2 separate regions of the Homo sapiens genome follow, and region 1 is linked to region 2. The links come from fine-mapping of genetic effects on gene expression. Tissue or cell type: fibroblasts. Region 2 holds a variant in brackets; the other region holds the start of a gene. All regions are shown on one strand. Distances are between the middles of the regions.

What was found. PIP is the estimated chance that this variant, and not a neighbour inherited with it, causes the effect.
Region 1: it holds the start of ITGA4, and the variant in region 2 is fine-mapped to the expression of ITGA4 in fibroblasts (GTEx, PIP above 0.99).

Annotation. Positions count from the first base shown.
Region 1 is chr2:181,452,472-181,460,580 of GRCh38, forward strand. It overlaps ITGA4 (integrin subunit alpha 4), which reads left to right and starts at 4,915. Exons shown (of 28, transcript NM_000885.6): 1 at 4,915-5,380; 2 at 5,725-5,846. The coding sequence starts at 5,184. RefSeq lists enhancers at 4,422-4,531, 5,252-5,441, 5,502-5,551, 5,912-5,961 and a silencer at 4,712-5,101.
Region 2 is chr2:181,270,753-181,278,861 of GRCh38, forward strand. All of the region lies in intron 3 of LINC01934 (long intergenic non-protein coding RNA 1934), which reads left to right. Among named protein-coding and RNA genes, the nearest start is that of MIR4437, 31 kb to the right of the region's middle. The variant G/T (reference allele first, on the strand shown) is at 3,350.

The DNA.
Region 1 (8,109 bases), 180 kb after region 2:
GCAACTGTTTTTGCCTTTTTTATATAAGCCATTTTAACTGGAGTGAGGTGATATCTCATTGTGGTTTTGATATTCATTTTTCTAATGATTAGTGATGTTGTACATGTTTTCTTATACCCGTTTGCCATTTGTATATCTTCTTTTGAGAAATATCTGTCGAGATCTTTTGCCAATTTTGAAATTACATTCTTTGTTAGGTTTTAGTTTTGTTGCTATTGAGTTGTTTGAGCTCCTTATATATTCTGGTTATTAATCCCTCATCAGATAGTGTGCCAATGTTTTCTCTCATTATGTGGGTTCTCTCTACATTTAGTTGATGTTTTCTTTGCTGTGCAGAAGCTTTTTAGCTTGATGTAATCTCATTTGTCTATTTTTGTTCAGGTTGCCTGTGCTTTTTAGGTCTTACACAAAAAAATCTTTGCCCAGACCAATATCTTAGAGCATTTCCCCAATGTTTTCTTTTAGTAATTTCATAATTTCAGGTCTATAATTCATTTTGATTTGGTTTTGGTGTATTGGTTATTTCAATAGATGCTGAGATAGCATTTGATAAAATTCAACATTCCTTTATGATAAAAATTCTCACCAAAATGGATATAGAAGGAACATACTTCAAAATAATGAAGGCCATATATGACAAACCTACAGTCAACATCATACTGAACACAGAAAAAATGAAGGCCTTTCCTCCAAGGACTGAAACAGACAAGGATACCCCCTCTTACCACTGTTATTCTACATAGTGCAGAAAGTCCTGGCCAGAGCTATCAGGCAAGAGGAAGAAAGGAAGGGTATCCAAACTGGAAAGGAAGAAGTGGTGAGAAAGTTTTAATTTTATTTTTTTGCATGTAGTTATTAAGTTTTCCTAGCACCATTTATTAAAGAGACTGTTTTTTTCCATTGTATGTTCTTTACAGCTTTGTCACAGATTAGTTGGTTGTAAGTGCATGGATTTATATGTGGATTCTCTATTCTGCTCCATTGGTCTATGTGTCTGTTTCTATGCCAATACTGTGCTGTTTTGGTTACTATAGCTTTGTAGTAAATTTTGAAGTTAGGTAGTGTGATGCCTCCAGCTTTGTTCTTTTTGCTCAGGATTGCTTTGGCTATTCAGGGTCTTTTGTGGTTTCTTATAAATTTTAGGAATTTTTCTGTTTCGTGAAGAATGTCATTTGTATTTTGATAGGAATTGCATTGAATCTGTAAATTGCTTTAGGTAGTATTGTAATTTTAACAATATTAGTTCTTCCAGTCTATCACGGAGTATATTTCTGGGTTTTTGTGTCCTCTTCGATTTCTTTTATCAGAGTTTTATTTATAGTTTTTCCTTGCATAGATATTTTACTTTTTTAGTTAAATTGATTCCTAGGTATTGTACATTTTTGTAGCTATTGTAAAAGGAACTGCTTTCTTGATTTTTATTCAGATTGTTCACTGTTGTCATATAAATGCTATTGATTTTTGTATGTTGATTTTGCATCCTGCAACTTTACTGAATCAGATCTAACAGCTTTTAGGTGGACTCTTTAGATTTTTCTAGGTATAAGATCATGTAGTCTGCAAACAAACCTAATTTGACTTCTTCCTTTCCAATTTGGATACCCTTCCTTTCTTCCTCTTGCCTGATAGCTCTGGCCAGGACTTTCTGTACTACGTAGAATAACAGTGGTGAGAGGGGGTATCCTTGTCTGTTTCAGCCCTTGGAGGAAAGGCCTTCATTTTTTCTGTGTTCAGTATGATGTTGACTGTAGGTTTGTCATATATGGCCTTCATTATTTTGAAGTATGTTCCTTCTATATCCATTTTGGTGAGAATTTTTATCATAAAGGAATGTTGAATTTTATCAAATGCTATCTCAGCATCTATTGAAATAAGTATACCGTTTCTGTTTTTGATTCTGTTAATGACTTATATTTAGATGGTATTTAAAGACATAGGAAATGGGTTAGATCTCCTAAAGAGGGAAGATGGAAAGAGAATGAAAGAGTTTCCAGAATATAGCCCTGGGGGTTTCCCGCACTTATGGCGGAGGGAAGGGAGCCATCAGAGGAAACTCAGAGTGGCCAGATAGAAAGGCAGGAAAAAGCTTAATAAGGTGGTATCATGAGAAGAGAGTCTTCCTAGAAGGAGAAATGCTTACTCTTGATAAAAACTGAAAAATAGGGTGAGTCCACATTAGAATTCTCGCTACTGGGGAGGACTTTCTACACAAGGTTAGAGATCACTTGTATTTTGTCTACTATAATTTTAGTGCATAATGCATTTTTTTGGCATATAGTGGGCACTTATATACATATTAATCTGATGACATTTAATAATTGAGTGCCCAAATATTTATGTCGAGTTGAGAGCTAGGGATAGGCATGAGTCTTTCTTAAACATCCTTCTCTTCTCCTTCCTCCACCCCCTCACTTGCCTTCAGAAGCATTGATCAGAGAGATAGCAGTATCTTCAGTTTTTTTTAAAGCAACATGAAACACACTTTATTCCTGCTAACATTAGGAAAAGCGAGCTGTTTTCCAAGCCCTGGAGGAAGGAAATTCAGCTAACTAACGTGAGGTAATGTAGGGTGGCTATTTCTTGAAAGGTAGTGAATCATAACTATAACCATACTATGGAAAAAAGTCCTGCCTTACCAACCACTCCACTGACTGCTTGTCACCAAAACTACGCTATGAAACGAATTGTGTTGAGTGGCTTTCATTGTAAAAGATTTTGGTGAAGGGAGGGAAAGAAACTGGTAGGGGTTCAGATCAGAAGATCTGGCTTTGCCAGTTTCTGGAGGGTGTCAGAATGGCTTCAACATACCTACTTCCTTGGCCTCAACTGGAGGTTTTGTAGCTGTAAACAAGAAGGATTGCATAGTTCAGAATAACGACACTGTAAGCTCATTGTGGAACTGGGTTAAAATCAGCATGTAGATCTACTAAGAAAGAAACACACTCAGCACTACTACAGAAAGAAACAGCCATGGGCCCTGATTGTTAGCTTTCTGGAAGCCATTTCATTTTTACAATAGATTTATCACACACTGTATTGACTTTTTCCAGTATAGAGTAAGAGAAAGTTAATATTCCTCATGTTTTGTCTGTTGACAGACTGAAAATAATTGCATTGAGTTTGGCTAGAATATCCTGTCATTCCATAAACATCTCAAACTCCACATGGCTAAAACTTAACCCATCCATGCCCCCATCTGCATGCACACATACATGCATATAACTTCATTTCTCAGTGTTTTTTTCTCCATGAATGGTAGCACCATTCTCTTTCAAGAAAGAGAAATACTTCCCCTTGGGATTATCCTATCTCTACTTATTGCTGCAGGGGCTTCCAAAATTAGGTTTTCTGTGTTCAGTCTTGCATTCACACTTCTGAAACCCAGAGCTGACCGAGACAAATTCTTCAACTTCCTGTCAGTCCCAACATAGATTTAAAATTCCTAACCTGGCTCATGAGGTTCACCATGTATTCCTGCTTCCCTAAGTCAGCCTCATATCACACCAACCTGTGTGTGGAGTGGCTAAATACTCTAGCCAGGCAAGCTCTCTCAGTTCTTCTACCTGGCTCCTCTGGAGCCCTCCTTATTGCTCATCCCATTCTTAGCCTGATTCAAGATTCCTGGTCCTTCAAATCTCTCTTTAAGTGTCCTTACCTGGATCTTTCTCTAGTTAGTACAAATTTTTCTATCTACCATTGGAGCGAACATTTTTTGAAACTTTGTATCAGTCCTGCCTTACTCTTGGTGGAATCCTGTGGTCCTAGTCAAGTGCCTGCTCCATGAATGTGCTGAATAAATGAATAAGCATTTTAATTGTGTATCTGTCATTAGTGTCAGATGTGTTATTTATTCCAGCATGGTTTTAGCACACAGACACACTCTTTGATGCAGACTTTTCTTTTCTTTTTACATATAGCAACAATAAAAAACTAGACTTTCATCTCCTGAAAATATCAGTCTAATAATCACCTATGGCTGTCTCTCTGGTTGCTGAAGGAAAAAAAAAAAAAAGGCAGGGCACACCTGGATTGCATTAGAATGAGACTCACTACCCAGTTCAGGTGTGTTGCGTTGTGGGTCTCCGGCACATTTCAGAGGCTCATTAGGACCCTGACCCCACACTGGGGTTTACACCCCTAAAAGCAGGTGTGTCCCGTGGCAACTGAGTGGGTGCGTGAAAAGGGGGGATCATCAATTACCAGCTGGAGCAATCCGAATCGGTTAAAGTGAATCAAGTCACAGTGCTTCCTTAACCCAACCTCTCTGTTGGGGTCAGCCACAGCCTAAACCGCCTGCCGTTCAGCCTGAGAGGCTGCTGCTAGCCTGCTCACGCATGCAGCCCGGGCTGCAGAGGAAGTGTGGGGAGGAAGGAAGTGGGTATAGAAGGGTGCTGAGATGTGGGTCTTGAAGAGAATAGCCATAACGTCTTTGTCACTAAAATGTTCCCCAGGGGCCTTCGGCGAGTCTTTTTGTTTGGTTTTTTGTTTTTAATCTGTGGCTCTTGATAATTTATCTAGTGGTTGCCTACACCTGAAAAACAAGACACAGTGTTTAACTATCAACGAAAGAACTGGACGGCTCCCCGCCGCAGTCCCACTCCCCGAGTTTGTGGCTGGCATTTGGGCCACGCCGGGCTGGGCGGTCACAGCGAGGGGCGCGCAGTTTGGGGTCACACAGCTCCGCTTCTAGGCCCCAACCACCGTTAAAAGGGGAAGCCCGTGCCCCATCAGGTCCGCTCTTGCTGAGCCCAGAGCCATCCCGCGCTCTGCGGGCTGGGAGGCCCGGGCCAGGACGCGAGTCCTGCGCAGCCGAGGTTCCCCAGCGCCCCCTGCAGCCGCGCGTAGGCAGAGACGGAGCCCGGCCCTGCGCCTCCGCACCACGCCCGGGACCCCACCCAGCGGCCCGTACCCGGAGAAGCAGCGCGAGCACCCGAAGCTCCCGGCTGGCGGCAGAAACCGGGAGTGGGGCCGGGCGAGTGCGCGGCATCCCAGGCCGGCCCGAACGCTCCGCCCGCGGTGGGCCGACTTCCCCTCCTCTTCCCTCTCTCCTTCCTTTAGCCCGCTGGCGCCGGACACGCTGCGCCTCATCTCTTGGGGCGTTCTTCCCCGTTGGCCAACCGTCGCATCCCGTGCAACTTTGGGGTAGTGGCCGTTTAGTGTTGAATGTTCCCCACCGAGAGCGCATGGCTTGGGAAGCGAGGCGCGAACCCGGCCCCCGAAGGGCCGCCGTCCGGGAGACGGTGATGCTGTTGCTGTGCCTGGGGGTCCCGACCGGCCGCCCCTACAACGTGGACACTGAGAGCGCGCTGCTTTACCAGGGCCCCCACAACACGCTGTTCGGCTACTCGGTCGTGCTGCACAGCCACGGGGCGAACCGATGGTGAGTAGAGTTGGACTGATGCGCCCTCAGCAGCTCAGAGCGGCGTGAGAATGGCGCCCTAGGGATTCCCTGCCCGATTCAAACTTTCCTCCCTCCCAAGGAGGCAGGAGGGAAACGCTGCGAGAGCCAGCTCGCTGGAAATCTGCCAGGGAAACTAACTTATCTTGGGGCGGCAGCGCCCCGGGTGCGTTATGGTGCAAGGTCTTGGAGCTTCGAGTCGGGGGTGGTGGGCGGAGGAGGAGGTGGGGAAGCTGCCCTGCTGCGGACTGCACATCTGTGGCGACAGGGAGCTCAGTGGGCAGCACAGCTCACGTCTGAGCGCACGTGCACGTGTCTCGCTTTAGGCTCCTAGTGGGTGCGCCCACTGCCAACTGGCTCGCCAACGCTTCAGTGATCAATCCCGGGGCGATTTACAGATGCAGGATCGGAAAGAATCCCGGCCAGACGTGCGAACAGCTCCAGCTGGGTGAGTTGGGTATGGGACCAGGAGTTAGTGACCTCCCGACCCCCCATGTGGACCCCACCATAGGGCAAGTCCTGGAAAGATTCACGTTGCCTGTTACTTCTGGTTTAAAGAGCATAAAGTTTTCAGTTTCAACTCCATCTCATCTTGCCTCCTTAATATAAAAGGGATTCCCTTTCTGTTAATATCGTTCTCCCTTTTCCTTATGGCAATGATTGCAGTACTCTGACAACTATGCTAGAGAAATTTCTTATGATACCTTCTCTTCATCTCTCCCCGTCTCTCCGTGTGTAAAGCACATTTTAGACTCTCTCAGCGTATTAAGGACAGGATCCAGCTAAGCCAAGACTTGAGAATTTTATTTCCATCTTTGACCTATCAACCCTCTTAAAGAACAGGCTAAGGAGCATATCAGGAATAGCAATTGGAATTGATCCCATATCCCGTCGTTTAACCTAAAGGCCTAAAAAAAAAAGTGATAGTTTTACTTACAATATACAATCTAAAAGAAAAGGAAAATTGGCATCTTCATCGTTAATGTAGTATAATTTTCCATTCCCAAAACCGTCATCCAAAACTCATGTTATATGGGTCCATCTTTTTGCAGTCATTTCTCAATGTCTCAGATTTGTGACAAGTTGAAAAATGTGTACTGATAGAGGGGAGAAGTTTCATGTTTCAAAGCCAAAGACAAGTTTGTTGCACACAGGCAAGTGGGGAAAGAGGAAGGAATATTAAATAACAAGACCTATCTTGTTCCAAAGTGTTACTGCTATATATATTGCTTAACTTTTTTCCCCTTAAAGCAACCCTGGGTCATGGTTGACATTGTTCCTAGTTTATGTATGAGGACTGTGGCTCAGAGTTGCAAATACCTTTTTAAAAGTTACTTAGCTAGTGACTGATAGGTGGGAACTAAAGTCAAACTAGGGTCTGAATGCGTCCAAAGTCTAAGCCATTTTCTTCCATGTATGTATCTTCAATGCAAATAAAATTAAGTGAATGGTTTAATATGTTGTCTGCTGAGCTGATGGGTCATCTGTAAACGGTGAATAAAATTGGTACTTCTTTATATTTCTTTGCTATAAATGGACTTTTGAGATTAGTTATTGGATCTTTAACTTCTTTTGTATTTTATAGTAGTCTTTGCTCTTTTTCAAACTGTGAAGCTGGTTCCCTTCATTCAGATGAATTCAGATAGAGTATAAACATAATGGAATTTTTACTTTTAACTCAGAGCACCTATAAAAGTCTACGAGTTGTCTGTAGCATGTAGAATAAGCCCTAGCCTCTTGTTAAGCATCCTCAATACCAGAAATCACAGTAGGAATGCATAAAACATTCACAGACCCATACATTTTGGAATGATTTTGCAAAGCATAATTTTCATTGCATGAGAGAGTTGTGGGTGAAGAATTAGGGAGTGGAGCCGACAACTTTGGTCTGCCAGAGGATCTTGGCAAGGTCTCAGGAGGGAGCAATTTTATTTCTGTTGTCCTGTCATAGTTTCCTGATCCATGACATTATAACTACTGATATTTAGTGCCTACTTCCTGTCTGGATGGACACTGAATCTATTTCTGGATGTCTGTGTTTAACTGGATAAATCATGACATAATACTGTATTAAATTTAAGATAATGCCTGTCAATGGAAGGAAAAAATTGTTTGGGCATGTGTAGCATGGGAGTTGACTGTTCTCAGAGAAATGTAAACATAGTAGATATGTCATAGATATGAATTAAATGAAGATCTTTTGGATGGATGAATGAATAAAAGTGGAGTGAAAATTTATCAACCTGACTGATGAGTAAGATAATTGATTAGAAATGATGAGCCAAACTGATTTTTAACTTTCAAAATTTTGGCCAATCTACAAGGTATTTACTGGGATGAAAGGAAAAAAGGCAAGATTCCTAGTCAGTCAATGAGTTAAAACATTAATAGTGATAGTAATGCCTTGAGTATTTGCCGAAGAGTTGACTGAAGTTATTTCTCATGTAACATTCTAAAGAATACAGATATCTTTTATTCCTCATGTAAAGAAACTGCCTCTCTATTCAGAATAAATTCAGTGGTAGCTTGAAGCTATAAAATAGGGATTGAGGCTACAGTCTAGAAATAAAACACTAAAAACAATACATTGGTAATAAAGATAATTTAGGATTCTTAGGTTTGTGGGCTATGCACTATTTTGTATGAAGAAGTTTCAAGAGTGTGTGTAAATATATATAAGCCATCTTCTGTAGAAGAGTGTGTGTGTGTGT
Region 2 (8,109 bases):
GAACAAGTGGTGGAAAATTCTGTGTGTAAGCTATAAGTGCTAAGAATGTCCCACGGTGGGGAGTCATATAGCTTCACCTCCTAAAGGCTCTCAAAGAGACAGCTGCATGTTTTTTAAACAAAATAAATGGATTTGTATACTCCACTACTCCAGAGTTAGCAATTACTTTGAGTTCTTCATTAAAAATGCATATAAGTGAAGACATAATTAGGAAGATTTAGAAATCTTTGTGTTTTCTGTAGTTATTTAATGTTTTGCAAAAGGAATACTGTCAAAAAAATTTACCGTTTCTCAATGTTAATTTTGAAAGTGGCTTAGTAAGGGATAGTTGAACCAAACCACGGCATTGTTTTAGGGTGGATATCAGGTTGTTTTTCTTGGTGAGTGATTTCCTCGCCTATCATAAATTAGTATTTTCAGCTTCTGAGATTTCTCAAAGAATTGAACAACAGAATATTTATTTAAAGTGATATCTTTCAAATTAGAGCTTTCTAATTATGTGGGGGAAACCAGAAATTTGATAAATGTGCACAATTGTACAATACTGAATATTTTTAAAAGATAGTCAGAATTCTTTCTTATTAATTTTCACCTTGCATTTTAACACATTTGGCTTCTTTTATTGTGGTGTCTAGCATTATCTTCCATAGAGAAATGCACTTCCAGGAATGCTTCAGCCTGTGTGGGTACATTTAAAGTTACCTGATAATGATGATGAGATGAATTCATGCAGTAATTAGAAGAAAGATAGCTTGAGGCACCTAAATTATGTGGCTCCAACTGGCCTTCTTTTGGAAAACAGCTAAAAAAGGTTATCATCTTCATTTTGTGAATGTTTTTCATTTAAAAGGAAAACAATGCTCATAAAAGTTTTAATATTATAGACTAGAAGAAGAGCGAACTATTTAAATACAAGTTCCTTTAATTTTCAGGTATATTTATTTTGGTTTCCTTCTGGACGCTGGTGAATGATGGTTATTGTTTTCACACAATGGTATCATATGTATGTGACTTCTGACCCTGGAGACAAACCCTCCCCACACACACACACACTAACAAGGGACCCACACAGTTTTTTTCTCCAATCCCAAGGAATCTCTCCTACCCCTCTTAGTCTTCTCAGAGCCATCTACCTCTTTCCTCCCCTCCCCATCACCCAGCAGAATCTTTAGGGAGAGAAGGAAAGGGTTTCAAGTATCTCTAAGCAAGGAATTTAGAAATCTGCTTAGGCTGGGCACAGTGGCTCACACCTGTAATCCCAGCACTTTGGGAGGCCGAGGCAGGTGGATCACCTGAGGTCAGTAATTCAAGACCAACCTGGCAACACAGTGAAACCCCGTCTCTACTAAAAATACAAAAATTAGCCAGACATGGTGATGTGTGCCTGTAATCCCAACTACTTGGGAGTCTGAGGCAGGAGAATCACTAGAACCCAGGAGATGGAGGTTACAGTGAGCCAAGATCGCACCATTGCACTCTAGGCTGGGCAACAAGAGCGAAACTCTGTCTCAGAAAAACAAAAAAGAAAAGAAAAGAAATCTGCTTAGCAGCTGAAAATCTGAGGGCAGAAGAAAGGAAAAATACAGTCATGTGCTGCATATCAATGTTTCGGTCAACAACGAACTGCATATACAATGGCAGTCCCCTAAGATTATAATGGAGCTGAAACATTTCTATCACTAGGGACATGGTAGCCTCATAGTACAACACATTACTCAAGTGTTTGTGGTGATGCTAGTGTAAACAAACTTATTGCCATACCAGTAGTATAAAAGTCTAGCACATTTAATTATGCATAGTATATAATACTTAATAATGATAATAAAATGTTAGGTTGTTGGCTTATGCATTTATTATGCTTTTTATCATTATTAGCATGTACTGCTTTTATTTATTTAAAAATAGTTAACTGTAAAACAGCCTCAGGCAGGTCCTTCAGGAGGCATTCCAGAAGAAGAAGGCATTGTTATCATAGGAGATGACAGCTCCATGCATGTTATTGCTCCTGAAGACCTTCCAGGGGGACAAGAGGTGGAGGTGGAAGATAGTGATATTGATGATCCTGACCCCATGTAGGCCTAGGCTAACGTGTTTGTTTTTGTCTTCATTTTAAATGAAAAGTTTAAAAGTATAAAGATGAAATTTTAAAAATTGAAAGAAGCTTATAGAAAAGATATAAATAAAATATTTTTGTATACCTATACAATGTGTTTTGTTTTAAGTTATGTTATTACAAAAGAGTCAAAAGGTTTTAAAAATTACAGTTTATTTAAAACTTAGGGTAAGCTGAGGTTCATTTATTAGTGAAGAAAGTTTTTAAAAATAATGTAGTGTAGCCTAAGTGCACAGTGTTTATTAGGTCTACAGTAGTGTACAGTAATATCCTAGGCTTTTACATTCACTCATCACTCACTCTCTCACTCACCCAAAACAACTTCTAGTCCTGCAGGCTGCATTCAGGGGTAAGTGTCCTATGCAGGCATACCATTTTTAAATCTTTCATATCATATTTTCACTGTACCTCTTCAATATTTAGCTATATTTAGATACATAAATACTTACCATTGTGTTAAAATTGCCTACATTATTCAATACAGTAACATGCTGGACAAGTTTGCAGCCAAAGGAGCAATAGGCTATACTGCATAGTCTAGGTGTATATAGGCCATATCATCTAGGTTTGTCTAAGAATACTCTATGATATTTGCACAATGATGAAGTCACCTAACAATGCATTTCTCAGAACATATCCCCATGGCTGCCTGACTGTATGTGAAAAAAAAAATGATTCAGTAAAATTTTTTAGAATATACTGTTCTCTTTTGTCCCCACCTATGATATTTTACTATGAAGTTTTCATCTTCTAATGCAGCATATCAGTAACAGCCTCTCAACCCATTTTCCCTCTTTCTTACCTTTTTGGGAGTCACAGGCTTCGGCTGGATGGAGTTCAGGGAGACAGAGCTCTGGCCAACCCCCAAAGCAGAACCTATGCAGGAGGGTATGGTGTCCACATTGCCTCATCCGAGGCAAAACTACAGCTATGTCAGGAGGGCATGGTAACACCTCAGTAATACGTTATATCTTCCTCACCACCTTGCTAAAGAGAAGCCAGTTTTAGACACAGTGATATGTAAGTGCTTCTTTTTTATAATTTGGTGAGGATCACCTTACTAAAGTGAGGATTTACTCACTTTGGCAATGTAACACGTTTATTAATTTTTTAAGCACAGAAAACTAATTTAAAAAATTTTCTTACCTTTAAGAATACAGATCAAGGTTTCAAAAACATTTTCAGTTGGAAATCTTTGGGTAGGAAAACTGCAGTAATGAGCAAAAGGGATAAAAA[G/T]GTAAAACATGTGCAAAACAGATGTTGCACCTAATTTCATGCCAGAACAAATTAAAAATCAGAATCTTGCTTTGTGATTTAGACGATGGACAATCTATACAGATGTGTGTAGGCTGAAAAAAATTCTCCTTGTGAAACTGGACATTTTTAAATTATGAGAACCTACTTTCTAAAAGCAACTGGGATCAATTACTAAAACAGAAATCTCTTCTTTTGTTTGGAGATTGTCAACAGTATCCAAACCTTGACATTAGATCAGCACCACATGGAATGAAAATAATTTTGAGGTTCATGCATCAAATGTAAAAACATGATTTAAAAATTTGAGAACATTTTCATAAAGAGTAAGATCCATATAATATGTGGTAATTTAAAATGTATTAAAACACACGAATTGGGCATCAATTAAGTTAGAAAGAACTGTGTTAGAACACCAGGCAGGTGGTCAAAATGGTAATGAAAAGAAATAAAAACACAGACAGTATGGAAGAGGCAGCCTGTAAACACCAAAACGGTGTCAGAGTCACAGAGTCACTGCCTGGTAGAGATGCTTGCAGGTTTTTTTTTTAATGTAATTTAAGTATTTCCACCCCCACGAGGAGATTTTAATGTAGTTATGATACATTTGAATTAATATCTTAGAGATTTCAAGTATCTTCTTCATAACGATCATCATTAGTCAAGAATAGAAGTTTTTAGATTTGAGGTCTATTTGCTTTCCAGAGGATCTGTAGATGGCTACAGAGGGTCTCTGACTCCTTTACAATTGTATGAAATCATCTATATATATATATATATATATATATATATATATATATATATATATATATATAGAGAGAGAGAGAGAGAGAGAGAGAGAGAGAGAGAGAGAGAGTACATAACTTTCATACATTCTTATGAGGATTCCATGACTTCTCAAACATTAAGAAACTATTGGAAAAAGCAGAGCTCTACTAACAGGAGACATGTCGATTTATCTTACATAAAAATGACCCGTACAACCCAGGAAAGCTTTGCAAACAGCCAAAATGTAAAACAAATTAAATGTTGTGTTTATCCCTTCAGAATAGTGCAGCACAACAACTCCAGTCATACAGTTTTTATTTACATGAATATTTTAGAAATCCAGCTATTTGTCATTAGACACTCTCTCTTTATAATTTGAAAAATTTCAAGAGCCATGGGAACTAACCATAGGTTATATTATGTTGTATATTACTGGCAAGTACTCAATAAAGAGCTGGCAAGAGACAGTAAATGAAAAATAAATATGTGGCTCAATCTGGTCAAGGGAAAATAACACAGATAACAAGGAGGGATTAGGTCAAGCCCATATTGTGGGTTGTAAAGCACCTGATTTCATGTAATTCAACTTATCAATATTCATGAGCACTTATGGTATGCAAAACACTGTGTTTCTGGTGCGAAAAAAAAACTAAACTTGAAACTTAGTAATGTTATAATTTTTCTTGTTTTAACCCAAGAATAATTTGTCAAATCAATGAGGAAGTTATGATTTGGGCTTTGTTGGTTTTTCACCAATAAGAGGATGATAGCAAGCAAGAACCACAGTGTGGTGGATATACATGATGTTGAGTTAACTAAGCTGGAAGGGTATTTCCCTCTATTCTTTGCCTGCGTACTTCTGGGTTAATGTAAGGTGCAAGAGACACAGTGCATAAGATGTGCACTAACCCTAACCCTAACCCTAACCCTAACCCTAACCCTAACCCTAACCCTAACCCTAACCCTAACCCGGGTTAATGTGAGGTGCAAGAGACACAGTGCATAAGATGTGGTAGGTGGAAGTGAAGTAGAAAGCATATTCTTTTATGCTGGGAAGGTCACTTGAGGGCACTGCTCTGTTTGCAGCCCTCTAGTGTTGCTGTTTGTCTGAGGGCTCACCTTATTGGTGCTGAGCAGTGGCGGGCCTGCAGCTCCTCCAGCTCCTGGCAAGGCCTGCAGCTTCTGATTCCCAAGTAAGGTGCATGTTGAGCTCTGTGATAATAAGCTCCAGCTTTTTCCACACTAGTTTATTAAAATTTATAATGCAGAAGGCATTTTTAAGTAGTTTGCTGCTTGTCTGAGCTTAGGGAGTAATCAGAAATAACACAAACTCTTATGAATCAGTTGCAGTTTCCATCACAGAACAGTCACAGCATTGGAGAAGTTGGAGGTCATGAGAAGCTGGCCTCAGAACCAGTTTATCCTTGTCTTCCCCTCTCCATTGAGGTCCATCTTTCCTTACCGCTGCCTACCCATTTTTTTTTTCTATGTCACTCATAATGGTTCTTTTCTAATTGATGTCATATACCAATGTATACCCAAATAACCTGACAGATATACATAGAAAAAGGATTTTAAATTAGGGGATCAATTGTTGATGTCAGAAGCAATATTTTTGCACTTTTTCAAACTCAATGCAACCTAAATCGTTCCCATGCTGGTGTATTAAAATTTGTAATGCAAAAAAGCATTTTTAAGTAGTTTTGTACTCTCAGGGGCATAATAAATTATCAGAAATAACAAAAACTCTTATAAATCAATTGTAGTTTCCATCACTTTACATAATATATTCTTTCTAATAACAACTAGTAGAGCAAAAACGTACTTTCTGCAGAAAAAGTAGAGAAAGGGAAAATCCAGGATCTCACTGAACTCATTCTTTGGCTTCTTTTTATTTCTGGAATTTGACTAGAAAGAATATTGATCTTTTACAGTGAAAAAAAAAAAAAAAAGAAAAGAAAAAGAAAAAGAAAAAAAATCACATCACATTTTAAATGTATTTGGTGCCAAGCTATCATTTATGGAAATAGATAACTGTTTCATAGTTAGTGGAAGCCGCTTACCTACTTTTGCAAATAGTAGTAGTAGTTACTAGATACCACATTGGCCCAGTAAAAGAGAGTTTAGGGAAAGAATCCTGGACTGATTTGAGAGTCATTAGGTCTTATAGAAAGATATCTTACAAGAAAAAATCATCAACTCAAATTAGATTGAATTAAAGAGGAGAATTTATTGGGATGCATAATTTTTAAAATACAACCCAAGAGTAGAGATATAGCTCTTTATCTTTCTTTTTCTGTCTGAATCCCCACCCTCATCTTTGTCTCTCTCGCTCCTCTCTCTCTTACTCTCCCTGTCTCCTATCCACCCCTTTCTCCCTTTTTACCCCTCTCCTTCTCTGTTTCCCTCCCTTCCTCTATCTTTCTCTTGATAGTTCAGGGTGCATGTGGCACCCACTCCTAGCTTACATAGCCTTCCAGCTTGAGTGCCACTGACCAACTAGCTAGTGTCTCTTCACCCAATTACTAGAAATATTCATTGTTATAATTCAGCCAATGGATTGACTATGCAAGGGGAGAGTTTCCACTTACAGTCGGATCAGCTATGGGCAGGGAGCAAAGTACAAAAATGGCTACTAAAGACAGTGAGTGACCCTTCTCGAAGGAGAAGTGGGATGGGCAGACACCCTGAGATATTTTCCACTTTACAATATTTGACTCTTCACCTAGTGGAAAGCAGCTGGATTCAATTGCTTTTTTTTTTTTTTTTTTTTGAGACGCTGTCTTTCTCTGTCGCCCAGGCTGGAGTGCAGTGGCGCGATCTCGGCTCACTGCAAGCTCCGCCTCCCGGGTTCACGCCATTCTCCTGCCTCAGCCTCCCGAGTAGCTGGGACTACAGGTGCCCGCCACCACGCCCGGCTAATTTTTTTGTATTTTTAGTAGAGACCGGGTTTCACAGTGTTAGCCCGGATGGTCTTGATCTCCTGACCTTGCGATACGCCTGCCTCGGCCTCCCAAAGTGCTGGGATTACAGGCATGAGCCACCGCACCCGGCCTCAATTGCTATTCTTAAGCAAGAAGCAAGTAACTCTTGGTGCTTCAGTTCCATCACGTTAATTTATGTAGAAAACCTATTTCTACTCTGGAGCCTATTTTTGAAAGCATGTAGTCTTTTAATGATAAGTACTATATAAATATTAGTTATGGCCATTATAAGTCTTTTAATTTTTTTTTTGTCTTTAAGGTCCAATTATTTTTTAAAAAGTATTTGTTCTAGCCAGGCGCGGTGGCTCACACCTATAATCCTTGCACTTTAGGTGGCTGAGGAGGGCAGATTGCTTGGGCTCAGAAGTTGAAGACTAGCCTGGGCAACCTGGCAAAACCCCATCTCCACAGAAAAATGCAAAACTTAGCCAGGCATGGTGGCACAAGCCCGTAGTCCCAGCTACCTGGGGGGTTGAGGCAGGAGGTCGCTTGAACCTGGGAGGTTGAGGCTGGAGTGAGCCTAGATGGAACCTCTGCATTTCAGCCTGGGGGACAAAGTGAGATCTCAAAAAAATGTATATATATGTATTTGTTCTAGATAACTGTTTGGTCTCCTTATCAGTCTGAAATAAGGGGTTCAGACTCCCATTCTCAAGGTATGATCGCGATAAAAATGTGACAATAATTTTGAGAGATCTTATGGTGTATGTCATCCCCCGGAGGTTGTGCTCTTCTTTCTGAATAAGAGGAAAATGTTATGTTCCCTGAATGTTTATGCAAATAAAAGATTTATTTTAACATTGAACCATAAACAAAATAAATAAGACATTTCTGATATATGAAAAATATCACAGTGGGAGTGAGAAATTATGTACAAAAAGCAAAATGAAATTGCAGAATGCTGTAAGTAGAAGGGGCTTTGGGGAGCATTTAGAGATTAAATGATCCAATCCAACCCTTTTAATTTCCAGGTTAAGAAATTGAAGGTTA